4 separate regions of the Homo sapiens genome follow, and regions 1, 3 and 4 are each reported to be linked to region 2. The links are microRNA targets in miRTarBase. Many come from high-throughput screens and were not tested one by one. Region 2 holds a microRNA gene; each other region holds the end of a gene's coding sequence.

What was found. Region 2 holds the annotated microRNA hsa-miR-324-5p (CGCAUCCCCUAGGGCAUUGGUG, at 2,231-2,252, opposite strand). A microRNA usually pairs through its seed, bases 2 to 8, with sites in the 3' UTR of a target mRNA and lowers its output. Matches are read on the target gene's strand: a 7mer-m8 pairs with bases 2 to 8, a 7mer-A1 pairs with bases 2 to 7 and ends in A, and an 8mer does both.
Region 1: miRTarBase lists LARS2 as a target of hsa-miR-324-5p. Seed matches in the 3' UTR shown: 8mer at 1,345-1,352.
Region 3: the mRNA of DEF8 is a reported target of hsa-miR-324-5p. Seed matches in the 3' UTR shown: 7mer-m8 at 532-538.
Region 4: miRTarBase lists KLF7 as a target of hsa-miR-324-5p. Seed matches in the 3' UTR shown: 8mer at 811-818.

What each region holds. Positions count from the first base shown.
Region 1 is chr3:45,547,047-45,550,138 of GRCh38, forward strand. LARS2 (leucyl-tRNA synthetase 2, mitochondrial) reads left to right here. Exons shown (of 22, transcript NM_015340.4): 22 at 305-2,361. The coding sequence ends at 484. Among named protein-coding and RNA genes, the nearest start is that of LARS2-AS1, 39 kb to the left of the region's middle.
Region 2 is chr17:7,221,113-7,224,112 of GRCh38, forward strand. It overlaps MIR324 (microRNA 324), which reads right to left and starts at 2,267; the gene lies at 2,185-2,267. It overlaps ACADVL (acyl-CoA dehydrogenase very long chain), which reads left to right. Exons shown (of 20, transcript NM_000018.4): 7 at 426-570; 8 at 840-969; 9 at 1,065-1,190; 10 at 1,555-1,753; 11 at 2,021-2,125; 12 at 2,532-2,618; 13 at 2,701-2,763; 14 at 2,856-2,957.
Region 3 is chr16:89,965,450-89,968,541 of GRCh38, reverse strand. DEF8 (differentially expressed in FDCP 8 homolog) reads right to left here. Exons shown (of 13, transcript NM_001242818.2): 13 at 482-2,681. The coding sequence ends at 2,579. Among named protein-coding and RNA genes, the nearest start is that of SNORA119, 14 kb to the right of the region's middle.
Region 4 is chr2:207,078,524-207,081,615 of GRCh38, forward strand. It overlaps KLF7 (KLF transcription factor 7), which reads right to left. Exons shown (of 4, transcript NM_003709.4): 4 at 1-2,741. The coding sequence ends at 2,690. Among named protein-coding and RNA genes, the nearest start is that of MIR2355, 30 kb to the right of the region's middle.

The DNA.
Region 1 (3,092 bases), not on the chromosome of region 2:
CTCTACCACAGCTGTGTATGGGAGCAGTGCTCAGAAAATGCAAGGCGGTCCTCACTCCACGTACGGGCACTCACATGCAGTCTCAGTGTCGGTCTCTTTCTGCAGGTCTAGGCATTAATCCTATTCAGCTGGTTGCATTTTACCCTTATGGGAAGCAGAGTGCTGACTTCCTCCTTTCTCCACCTCTATTCCTTTCCCCTAAACAAATGCAGCCATGCCCTTTACAGGCAGGAGGTTTGGTATTGGGCCGCCTGCCACTCTGAGGATGTTCCTCATTGTTTATCTTGGCTTTTCTCCTTCTCAGATCAACAATAAAGCTTGTGGCAAAATTCCTGTGCCCCAACAAGTTGCCCGGGACCAGGACAAAGTCCACGAATTTGTTCTTCAAAGCGAGCTGGGTGTCAGGCTTTTGCAAGGACGAAGCATCAAGAAGTCCTTCCTTTCCCCGAGAACTGCCCTCATCAACTTCCTGGTGCAAGATTGACAGCCAGGAGGCTGCAGCTACCACGAGGGCCTCTGAGGAACCTCCTTCCAGGCCTGGGATGAGGGGGCGATGTCTGCTGGCCCAGGGGAAGGGAAAAGACAAATGTCTTGACTGTTGACCTCGGTCCTGTGGCAGACTGCAGTCAACAGTGTGCCTCTGTAGTGTGGCCTGGTGCTGGGGTGAAGGTGAGCTGGGCAAAGGAGAAATATGAGCTACTGAGGAGGGGGTTGGACATCCTGCCCCTCACCCCCCACCCACACTGCAGGTAGAGGAGGCCATCTGATCCCATGGGAAGCCATCAGAGACACTGCTGGTGGGAGCAGGAAGGAGCAGTGCCCCTCGAGCAGCCAGGAAGCCTGCGGATCTGGGAAATGGCTCTGCCTTAGGCACTTCTCGGGAATTTGAGGCCAGCCTGAGGAACTGCAGGACTCAGGTGCAATGTGCCAGCCACTTGGAACTGCTAACTGAGCCTCCAGATGGTAGTGAATGGTCTCTTTGCCTTCAGGCTGGATGAGGAAGTCATTTAGGAAATGTTCAAATAACCAATATGTGGAAATGGACACAGGGATCTTCTGAAGTTGCTTTGAATCAAAAGGCAGGCAGTGCTGGTTCCTCTGCCTGTGTCCCCACCACTCCCCAGCTCTGTCATGCAGGCCTGTCCTCCCCAACCCCAGCTGGATGTGCCTCCCAGGCCTGCTGTGGTTCTGACACACAGGATCCCAGGCAAGGCACCACTTCCTCACATGAATGAGGAGCAGCAAGTCATAACCACTCCCTTGGGTATACAATTTGCTGTGTAGTGAAGTGGAACCAGGCTCAGGCTGCTGGTCCCAACCTCAGAGCCCCACCGCAGCCCAGTAGGGATGCAGCACGCCCCAGAGGGCTCATGTGGGCCCCAGATGGCAATGCCACCATTGTTGATGTGACTCCAGAGCCAGTTATTAGGAAGAGCAAGCTCACCACAGAGGAGTGGAACTGAGGCCCCCCAGATGTTGCCTCCGGTGTCCAAGCCACAGCGGTCTGGCTGTTGGGAAGATGGCCAGGAATGGACTCATACCATTGGCACATTAGGCTAATCCTGGTTTTATGTGAAGTCAGCAATTAAGTGTTCCCACTAGAACTGACCTAAGCCACTGATTAATATTTAATGAGGGAAGGTAGGGGAGAATCTAGCCATTTTATAATGCCAGAAATCTATATATGTTATCTGATGCCATTTTTCTGAAGTAGCCTCACATGTGGTCCCCCTGCAGTTCAGCAGTTAACAGATGACTTTTTTAGTGTAATAAAATGTTTATCATCTATGACTTCAGGACATATGTGTGATCCTGGAATACACCATATTCCAATTTCAGAGTTAATTACAAACAGATTGAGGTATTCCATCATCATCGGAAGCATTGGCTGTGTGTCTGACTCCACATGGAATGCTATAAAGTGGGATACATGTGGTTCTTCTTGTTCCAGAACTTACAGTCCATGGTAGACAACACTGATACAGGCAAACTAGCAACAGCAATTAAGTCACTGGTTCTCAGACTTAATACTCTGCCTGGTCCTCATGCCCAGATATTCCAATTTAATTGGTCCATGGTGTGGCTTGAACACCAGGAATCTTTAAAACTCCACAAGTGATTCTAATGGGCAGCAAAGTTTGAGAATCACTGGACACATTGATGCACTTGAGCCATCATTTCTATCTAGTTCTTCCTCTTCCTAATCTTCAGGTTAGCGGGGATAAGTTTGGTCCAGGACCAAGAGTTGGACCAAAAGGGAAGACAGGGGCCAGAAGTCTAGAGTGCTAGAGCCGACTTGAATGTACTCAGTCTCATTGCACATGGCAGTGAATATGGATTAAATATAAGCCCATGAAAATATTTGGTACAAGGAAGGAGTGAGTGATTTTGATTATCTTGTTATTTCCTAGTAAGCTAAGTGGTCTTGAACAAGATGAGGGAAGGGAGCCCTTTATTTGCATGTGATCTGACCAGAGCAATGGGCCAGTAAAGCCTCAAGGCTGCTAGACTGACCAGCTGGCTGACACCAGCATGGCTCTGAAGAAATTGCTCCAAGAGGATAAAGCTTTTGCAAACAAGAGCTCATCAGTACATACTAAGAGACAGTATGGGTAATGGAACAACTGGACAGAAAACTCTGACCCCTGGGAGTGAGGTGGTGGGGAATAATCTCAGCCATTTATTGACTGTCTTGTTGAGGTCAGAAACTGGACTCAGCAGGTTCACAATAATTATCTTATTTAATTCCCACAAAAACTCTAGAGGGAAGGAATTATTCTCTCATAAAAGAAGAAACCCAGGCTCTGAGGTTCAATAATTGTCTCAGTTTTCACAGCTAATAAGTAGGAGAACTGGGATCCAAGCCCACATCTTCTGTCCTCCACGTTTGCCTCCCCGCCATGTCTACCAGTCCCCTCACCTAATTGTCCATGTTACTTGGTGTACACAGTCAGGTGAGATGGCTCCCAAAACCACTGGCATTTTGAGCAGAGTGTGGCTGGGGTTTCCCTCCTGGAAAGCCTGTAAACCTGGGAAATCACAGAGGTGGTGTCCTCTCTGCAGGGGCAGTGGTGGGTGAGAGGCCAAGAGCA
Region 2 (3,000 bases):
CAGCTCTTTTGCCATAGACCTAGAGACTAGGGCTAAGGTCTCTTCTAAGCACCTGCCCTGGGTGCCTGTGGGATGGATGTTAACTGTCCAAACATAACACAATTTACATGCAGTCCCCTAGGCCTGAGCCATGGGCCTCACCCTGGTTCCCAAGTCCTTACAAATCTCTAAGTTGGGGATTGCCTAACAATAGACTGACTAGTAGCAAGTCACCCTCCTACCTAGACCTAAGACAGACCAGCATTCTCTGCTGTGCCCTTTGCACACCCCACTTCTTTTCTACACACTGGGGATGGCCCAGGTCAGGCACTGCCCTAGGTCAGGAACTGCCCTAGGTCAGGAACTGCCCTGTTGCCCACACTCTCCTGTTAAGGTCAGGTCCCCCTGCAGCCAGTGACAACCCCAGATTCCTGCTTCCCCTCCAGTACGCCCGTTTGGTGGAGATCGTGGGCATGCATGACCTTGGCGTGGGCATTACCCTGGGGGCCCATCAGAGCATCGGTTTCAAAGGCATCCTGCTCTTTGGCACAAAGGCCCAGAAAGAAAAATACCTCCCCAAGCTGGCATCTGGTGAGGCAACCCTAGGAGAGCCAGGGATTGGGGGGCACACTGGGCTTGGCACAGATTAGGCCAGTTGGCACTTAGATTATCAGATGGCTGAGCATTTCAGTTGGGGGAAGGTTTTGGGGAGGCATCACAGTGTGCTGGTTGGGACATGCAAAAGAACTGGATACTCCCAGGTGTTAAGGGGGAACTGCCTGCTGGAGGGATGGGGAAGTGGGCCGAGGGGACTTTGAAGCTCATCAGAACTTGGGGTAAAGTAGCTCTCTCCCCAACAGGGGAGACTGTGGCCGCTTTCTGTCTAACCGAGCCCTCAAGCGGGTCAGATGCAGCCTCCATCCGAACCTCTGCTGTGCCCAGCCCCTGTGGAAAATACTATACCCTCAATGGAAGCAAGCTTTGGATCAGGCAACCTGCCTCCCATTTCTCCCCTTCTCCTCCGCCCAATTCCAGGCCCCACTGCTCCCCGTCCTCCACGCCCTGAATATCCCATTCTTCCACAGTAATGGGGGCCTAGCAGACATCTTCACGGTCTTTGCCAAGACACCAGTTACAGATCCAGCCACAGGAGCCGTGAAGGAGAAGATCACAGCTTTTGTGGTGGAGAGGGGCTTCGGGGGCATTACCCAGTGAGTGAATTTGGGTTGGGGGAGCTTAGGACTGAGGGGCAGGACTGGGCTCCTGGGCAGATGGCTGTTGCAAGTCACCCTGGGGACGTGTGCAAAAGCCAAAGCAGGTGGACTGAATGTGGCCTTTGGGACTAATATGTATGCAACTGAGCTAAAGTTTTGGCTCCAGCAACCAAGTCCAACACAAAATAGGACATAGCCAGGCCTCCTTAGCCCTCAGGGCCTGAGGGGAAGTGGTGGCTGTAGCCTCTAATAGTCTAGTGGTCGTCATTCCTCCCTGGTGCATAAGGAGCGAAGGAGCAGTTTTTCCCCCAGTGACAACCTGTTGAACACACCTCTGCTTTCCCACACTGCCCTGACACAGTGGGCCCCCTGAGAAGAAGATGGGCATCAAGGCTTCAAACACAGCAGAGGTGTTCTTTGATGGAGTACGGGTGCCATCGGAGAACGTGCTGGGTGAGGTTGGGAGTGGCTTCAAGGTTGCCATGCACATCCTCAACAATGGAAGGTTTGGCATGGCTGCGGCCCTGGCAGGTACCATGAGAGGCATCATTGCTAAGGCGGTGAGTACCCTGCCCGAGTCCCTAGGTAACCCAAACAGAAGTCTCACTGTCCCCCTTGCCATGTGTCCCTGATCACTTGCAGGCACTCCCTACACTAGAAACTCCTCCCCTACCAGCAGCCCGACTTGCTAGCTTAGGTCTCCATCCAGCGTAGACTGAACTCTGGTTGTATGCAAAACCCATCCCTCTGGCGCAAGCCCAGCCCCTCTCCTAGGGAGACTGCAGAACCACACTGAACCACAGCGGGATGTGTGGACCCTCTTCCAGGTAGATCATGCCACTAATCGTACCCAGTTTGGGGAGAAAATTCACAACTTTGGGCTGATCCAGGAGAAGCTGGCACGGATGGTTATGCTGCAGTATGTAACTGAGGTGAGGGCCTCCCAAGCCCCTCTCCCTGGAGCCCTGGGGCTTTCTTCCCAGTCGGGTCAGACTACAACCCCCAGCAGCACCTGGGGCAGTGGGTCTCCAGCTTTACACCAATGCCCTAGGGGATGCGGGGAGGCATAGTCAGCTCAGCTTCTGCGAAGAGAGACAGCAATGATGTTCTGCTCAGGTGCCTGCCAGCAGTACCAGAAGTTAATTCTACCTCATCCCTTACATCCACCCCTTTTAAGAAAACAAATACCTGGAAGCACCTGATGAACTGACCCAGAACAAGTATCTGCCTGACCTGACAAGCTAGGTCAGCCCTTATCTTGGAGATCTGGGTGATGAGGCCAAGTCTGACAAAGCCCTTTGCAATTTTCCTTCCCATGTCCCAACTATGCAACCTCAGTCCATGGCTTACATGGTGAGTGCTAACATGGACCAGGGAGCCACGGACTTCCAGATAGAGGCCGCCATCAGCAAAATCTTTGGCTCGGTGAGGTCCCAGGCATGCTGGGAGGGAGTCCAGTTTGGGTGCTCAGCTCCCAAAACCAGTCTCATCTGTTCTTTGTCCCTAGGAGGCAGCCTGGAAGGTGACAGATGAATGCATCCAAATCATGGGGGGTATGGGCTTCATGAAGGTACAGGACGGTCTTCTGCAGAGCCTCGGCTGGGCCAGGGGTGGGTAGGCACATCTCAGCACGGGCATATAATTTGTGTGGCCCTGTGCTAGGAACCTGGAGTAGAGCGTGTGCTCCGAGATCTTCGCATCTTCCGGATCTTTGAGGGGACAAATGACATTCTTCGGCTGTTTGTGGCTCTGCAGGGCTGTATGGTAAGACAGAGAATTGGGTGGGGGTAGAGGTGGGGAGGACAGT
Region 3 (3,092 bases), not on the chromosome of region 2:
AAAATCAATGCCTGGCCAGGCGCCGTGGCTCACACCTGTAATGCCAGCACTTTGGGAGGCCGAGGCAGGAGGATCACCTGAGGTCAGGAGTTTGAGACCAGCCTAGCCAACATGGTAAAACCCTGTCTCTAATAAAAATTCAAAAAATTAGCTGGGCATGGTGGCATGCACCTGTAGTCCCAGCTACTCAGGAGACAGAGGCCGGAGAACAGCTTGGGCCCGGGAGGCGGAGGCCGGAGAACAGCTTGGGCCCGGGAGGCGGAGGCCGGAGAACAGCTTGGGCCCAGAGACGTTCAACACGTCTGTGTGATACCACAGGTAGTTCTCCCAACCAATCAGGACATGTTACTTCGCCTCACACCAGATTACATTCAACCCCATTGGATGGCAAAGGCTGTCTTTCCTAAGCCTGCAAATGACTTGTATGTCAACAGACCAATTTCTCTTACTTTGTCCGCAATTCACCACACACACACCAGGCTAAAGGATGTATATTTAATGAGACAGTGACAGCAGCATTGTTACAACTGGGCATCCCTCAGGCCAGCCTGGTCCCATGCTGTGGGACCACCCATGTGTGGTCTTCCACAAGGTGCTGGCGGCACCGGGCTCTTCCTGCTGTGCCACAGACCCACAGAAAGAACCATACGTGATTCCGTTTACCGGCTGTGTCACCCAGAAGGGGCAGGTGGGGGAGATGCTGGGTGGCAGGTAAAAATAAAAGGGGCCCAACCCTTTGTCCAGCAAATACCAGCACAGTTTTTCTATGGACACAGTGATTTGTAACTTGAATAATGTGAAGTTGATTACACAGATTTCGGAATGGCTAATATCCATATGACAGAAATGTGATGCATTCATGAGACGTGTGCAGACTTTGGGGTGTTGGGAAACAGCATTTGGCCTTTAACCTCCTCCTCAGCCCCAAAGAGGAAGGGGAAACAGGACAGGAACCCACACTGTTGATCCAACCTCACATCACATTCTCTGAAGGACTCCGACATGTTCCCTGCTCACCGTTCCACCTGAGGTAGGTCAGGACCCCTGCCCCCATTTTCCAGATGGGGAAACCGAGGCAGAGCAGACAATAAGAACCTTGCCTAAAGCCACCACAGTGGGGAGTGGACACCATCCCCTTCCTGATGCCGGAGGACAAAGAGGAGACCCTGCCGTCTCTCCCACTCCTGGAATGAGCCAGTGAGCCAGGTGGCCTTTCTGCTGACTGAGGTGTCTCCTCTTGGGTTTCCTGGTCAAAGGGGACCAATAACCAAGCAGTGGCATTCTCTGCCCTCTGCCCACCGTGTGCCAACCATGTGCACCAACAGCCAAGCACAGTCCAGGGTGTGGGGGAAAAGGACAGACAGGAGCACCCCCACTGCCCAAGGCAGAAGGCTGGGAAGCCACGTCCTGACACGTCCTCTCCTGAGGCCCCTCGTGGACCGCAGGATCTGTAAAGTGCAAACACCAAAGCCAAGTGTCCCCTCACCCAGAGCTGTAGGTTTCCTCTGCTGCCCAGGGGCCTCTGTCCCGTGGAGTGAGGGACCTCCCACACGCCTGCCCTGATCTTCCTGAATGTGCTCAGTCGAGCGAATACTCTCAGCTCTCTTGACCTCAGGCCCCCAAACAAAAGGCCATTGGCTGGTCATTTCTGAGCTATCTGGAGCCCTCCACAGGGAGCAGGACAGAGCTCCTCAGGTAAATCTGGTTCCAAGAAATGCCACCAGACCACTGCAGGATCCCATCGCCTAACTGGAACCTCCCCCAGCACACAGCCCCTGCTGCACACCTGGAGGCCAGGACACCCTCCTCAGGCTGGGGCCACAGCCTCCTAGCTTGGAGCACCAGGAAAGGTGGGCTGGGCCAAAGCAGGAGCACCCAGCAGGGAAAAGCTCCATGGCCCCTTCCCTGCTGTTGTATAGAAACAACAGGTGACCCCACTGTACTGACCATCCGATGAGGCCTTTGAACCTCAGGCCAGGGAGAGGCAGGTCTGCAGGTGACAACTGTGAACAGTCCCAGCTGGGGACAACCAGAAATCCCCAAGGCCACGAGTGGCTGAAAGGGATGGAGCCCCCAGGCAGAGCCGACACCCCACCGCAGGTGAGACTCGGCCCTTGGCTGAGTGTGTGCAGCCGCATCCTCAGGTGTCACTCAACACTCCTCTGAAGCTCTGTCCGGGTCTTGGCCTGATGAGCTTCCAGGGTGGCCAGGACGGGAGCTGTGGAATTTCTAGGGCCCGGATGCCCTGGTCCAGGGGTGTGGAGGGCTCTGTGCCATGGGGGAGGTGAGATGTCCCCCCAGCTCCCTGCCCATGGAGTTCTGCATTGGGGGAAGGATGGGGGCCACGCAAGGACCCCTCACAGCAGCACACCCAGGTGACAGCCAGGTGCAGCCGCCCCGAGTCCCAGCAAGCACCTGGGAGACAGCGGGCCTTGACACTGCCCACCCGCTCTGGCCCAGCAGGGGTGGAGGGGGCCAGGGCCGCACCCCAGGGGTCTCCGGAGCAGAAGGAACAACTTGATGTTGGCAGGGTGGGTCCTGGCGGGCCAGGCGGGGTGCCCAGCACTGTTCCTCGGCGCTAGGCCTCCACATCGGGACCTGGCTCCTGGAAGAGCGACTGCTTCCTCAGGCTGAGCCGGGCACACTTGGGACAAGTGGTGGAGTTGTCGTAGTAGCAGTCCCTGGGGGCAGAAAGAGGTCGGGGCTCTCTGCACAGGAAACTCCAGCACTGAATCCCCCCAAGCGTCCTAGGTCAGCTCCTATCATCCCCTCTACAGCCGTTACCAAAGGGCAGAGTCGGAGTCTGCAGCCAGATGCAAGTGACTGTATGGCCGTGTGCAGAGCGCTTACGGGCGTGCAGATGTGGACCTCCAGGGGTCCTCACGCTACCTGCTATCCCCCAACCACACAGGTCCCAGTTCACACAGCTGAGGGGCTGAGCCAGGTGGCCACGCCAGACTCGACTCAGAGCCCTTCCTCACGATTCCCACCTGTTCCTATCCCTCCCCTGGCTCCCAAACTGTACATCACGGCACCCTGGGGCACCGCAGCCTAGTTCAAACTTTTAAACAGAACGTAGCAGTAATTAACAC
Region 4 (3,092 bases), not on the chromosome of region 2:
ATTATAAACCCTTAATAATAGCATTCGAGAGGCAAGAGCAGCTCCAGCTTGGGAGAGAACATTTGCAAATCGTGGTGGCCATGGCTTAATGCCATCACTGGCGTGTGCGTGCATTCATGCTGGAGGCTGCTACATAAAGGAAAAGAAAGGAACCAACAGAATTCAGGGTGTCTAAAAGTTTCATCTAGTGCACTGACTGGAGGCGCTACAGTTTAATACAGCTGAGGTTCAAGGTCCCTCACACATCCTTCATCCAGGAAGGATGCACCACACATTCAAATATAATCCCATGGTACGCCCTGATGGACTGGCCACAAAATGCACTCAAATGCAGCAGAGAACTACGAGATTGTCAGCAAGCAGTGCTCCAGAAATTGTTTTTAAGTCATGTCTAGTTTTAAATCTTTGGAATAAAACTGATTTTTAATACCCTCCAACTAACATACATACAATTGCCTCCGGCAAATGGACAGATTTTGTGTGTGTGTGCGCGTGTGTGTTAACGGGTGTTCTTTCTTTTTTTTTCGTTTTGTATTATTTTGTTTTTTTTTTTGTTTTTGTTTTTGTTTTTTTTGGTCTAAATAGAAAAAAGGAAAAGGAGAAAGTAAATTCTTAGGGCCAGACCTCGAAATGCCCCAAGTGTCCAATTGGCAGCTATAGCATTTGTGAGGAGGTTCCTTTGCCCTCAGACGAGTAGTTTCAACATTTCAGTGAAAACAAAGGTTGCAGAAAGCTGAAAACCCAGATCTTGAAGGTTGCTGTCATATATGTGTTTGTGTTTCTTATATTATTTCCTTTTGACTTCAGTTTTGCATCCCAAATATGTATGGGGTGGCATTTTAACAGTCAATGAGTCAAACAGTCAAAGGAGGACAGGAGGGGAGCCAGCTGGTAGGAGGGAGCAGCAACCGTGTGTGGACCAAGCGCCATTTTTGTTTTATAGACGTGTCTTGAAGGGATGGTCCCAGAATATACAAAATATACAATCTGTCCTAATAACCACCCCGCTTGCTTGCATAGGCCATTTGATGGTCCTAAAGGCAGTCTTTGGAGTTGAGGCCAGTGCCAGCTAGCTAGGAATGCGGGTAGATAGAGACCACTACTGGATGTGTGAGTGTGGCATGACAAGTAAGGACTGTAGACTCCTTTGGAGTCAGCTTGCAGAGTAAATGTGAGGCCTCTGTTAATCCTGGGGGTTCTAGGTCACAAGTCATGGTGGGCCTAGCCAAAAAAAAAAGGAAAGAAAGAAACGTGTCTCTCCTTTTAGACAGCCCATGAGAGAAACACCTCAACCTTTTCCTTAAATGTCAACCCTTCACTCCCACAATGGCGTTTTAAATTGTGTATTGTAACACGTAGGGGAATAGGAGCTCAGTGGGCATGACAGAGAAGACAGGATGATCTTTTGTGAAGCCACTAGACTTGGGAGGCATCCTCAGTTTTCCCCACTCCTGGAAAGAGTGATATTTTTGGCTTTTTGTCAGGTCATAAACCAGAGTTAAATTAAATACGCAGCTGCCCTCTGAGACTAGCGACATCTATGCTGTAACTGGTTATGGGGTAGCAATGACACACAGCACAACGGTTGATCACTATGAGCTGAGGTCATCATGCCTCAAGGAGGATGAGAGAACTGTGATGTCCCATCTGACTGGCTGCTTCGAGAGCTGGACATCCAGGTGCCGAGAGAGTCCTGGAGAGGTTTAGTCCATGGAGAAAAGATAAAACATTTAAGCTTCCAAATAAGCTTTTCAAGTTTTCGTTAGCAAAAACGGAGAGATTAAAAAGAAAAAATCTAGCACTGGCAATAAGGTGAGGCTCAAGGGATATACTGTGATTTATCATCAAGGACTTTATTCTCTTGGCCACTTTGCAGTCATGCTAGAAGTTTCCAGAATCCCTAGTGCATATGGTGTGCAAAAGTCAAAACGTAAGAAAAGAAAACTCCTCCCTTGAGAGTGAAGTCTACAGAAATGCAGGCCAGAAAGGTGTAAGGTGTTATTCCAGTCTGCCGCCGCTAAGGCCGTTGGGATCGACGCGAAAGATCTCAATAGTACTAAGAACCAAAACCAGTCAACAGTTCTGTGAGGAAGTCTGACGCACGGAATAGTAGGACTTTTCACACACAAAGGACAAATAAACCAAGAGTTAATTTTGGCTACCAAACTGCAATTTGGTTTTCTAGGTCATTTTCCCCCAACTATTTAAAAAGAAACATTAGTGCTACACATATGCAACTTTAAGATGCTGGATTCTCCTATCAAGTTGCACTGAGAAGCAAGTGAAATAAGCCCCTCGGACTGCCGTCCACCTGCACAGACGTCACATCCATTTTCTTTGATTTCCATTGGCAACAGCGGGAAATAATTCCAATAGTGCTGAAGTAAGCAGCCAGTCTGCCTTGCTGAGTTCACCTGGTTTCCTTCTTCATCTTCTTCCATCTGGCTAGGGCAAGGCATAAAGAATAGACGTATATATTTTAAATATAGTTGAGTGCATGACAGTGTGTATGTGTGTGGGTCTGTGAGTGTGTGTATATGTGTGTGTGTGTGTGTGTGTGTACAGAGGTTTATAAGTGAGAACTTTCTTCTGCGAGGCAATGGGTCCCCGCCTGAAGTCCAGCCCCCTGCCTCATGGCGTTTCCTTTAGACACTAGCCGATGCCATGGCAACTCTGGCCTTTCGGTTTTTTAGATATGTCTCTTCATGTGGAGGGCAAGATGGTCAGACCTGGAAAAACACCTAGGAGATATAAACAACAAGGATATTAGAGAACTCCCAGCAAACAGCTTGACTTGCATCACTCCTTAGGAAATGATTTCCCTTACTTTAAACAGAGACAGTGCACATGCATTGAGAAACAGGGCCATGTGTTGGGAAGGTAAGTTTAAGGGACAAAATGTTTGGGTTTAAATCCTATCTCTTCCAATAGCTGTGTGACTCGGAGCACATTAACCTGTCTGTACTTTAATTCCTCCTCAGTAGAGTGGGGATAATTATAGCATTTACCTCATAGGTGGGTTGTGAGGATTAAATGAGATGATCTATGCAAGGTACTTAGAATACGGACTGGCACATCGTAGGATCTCAGTG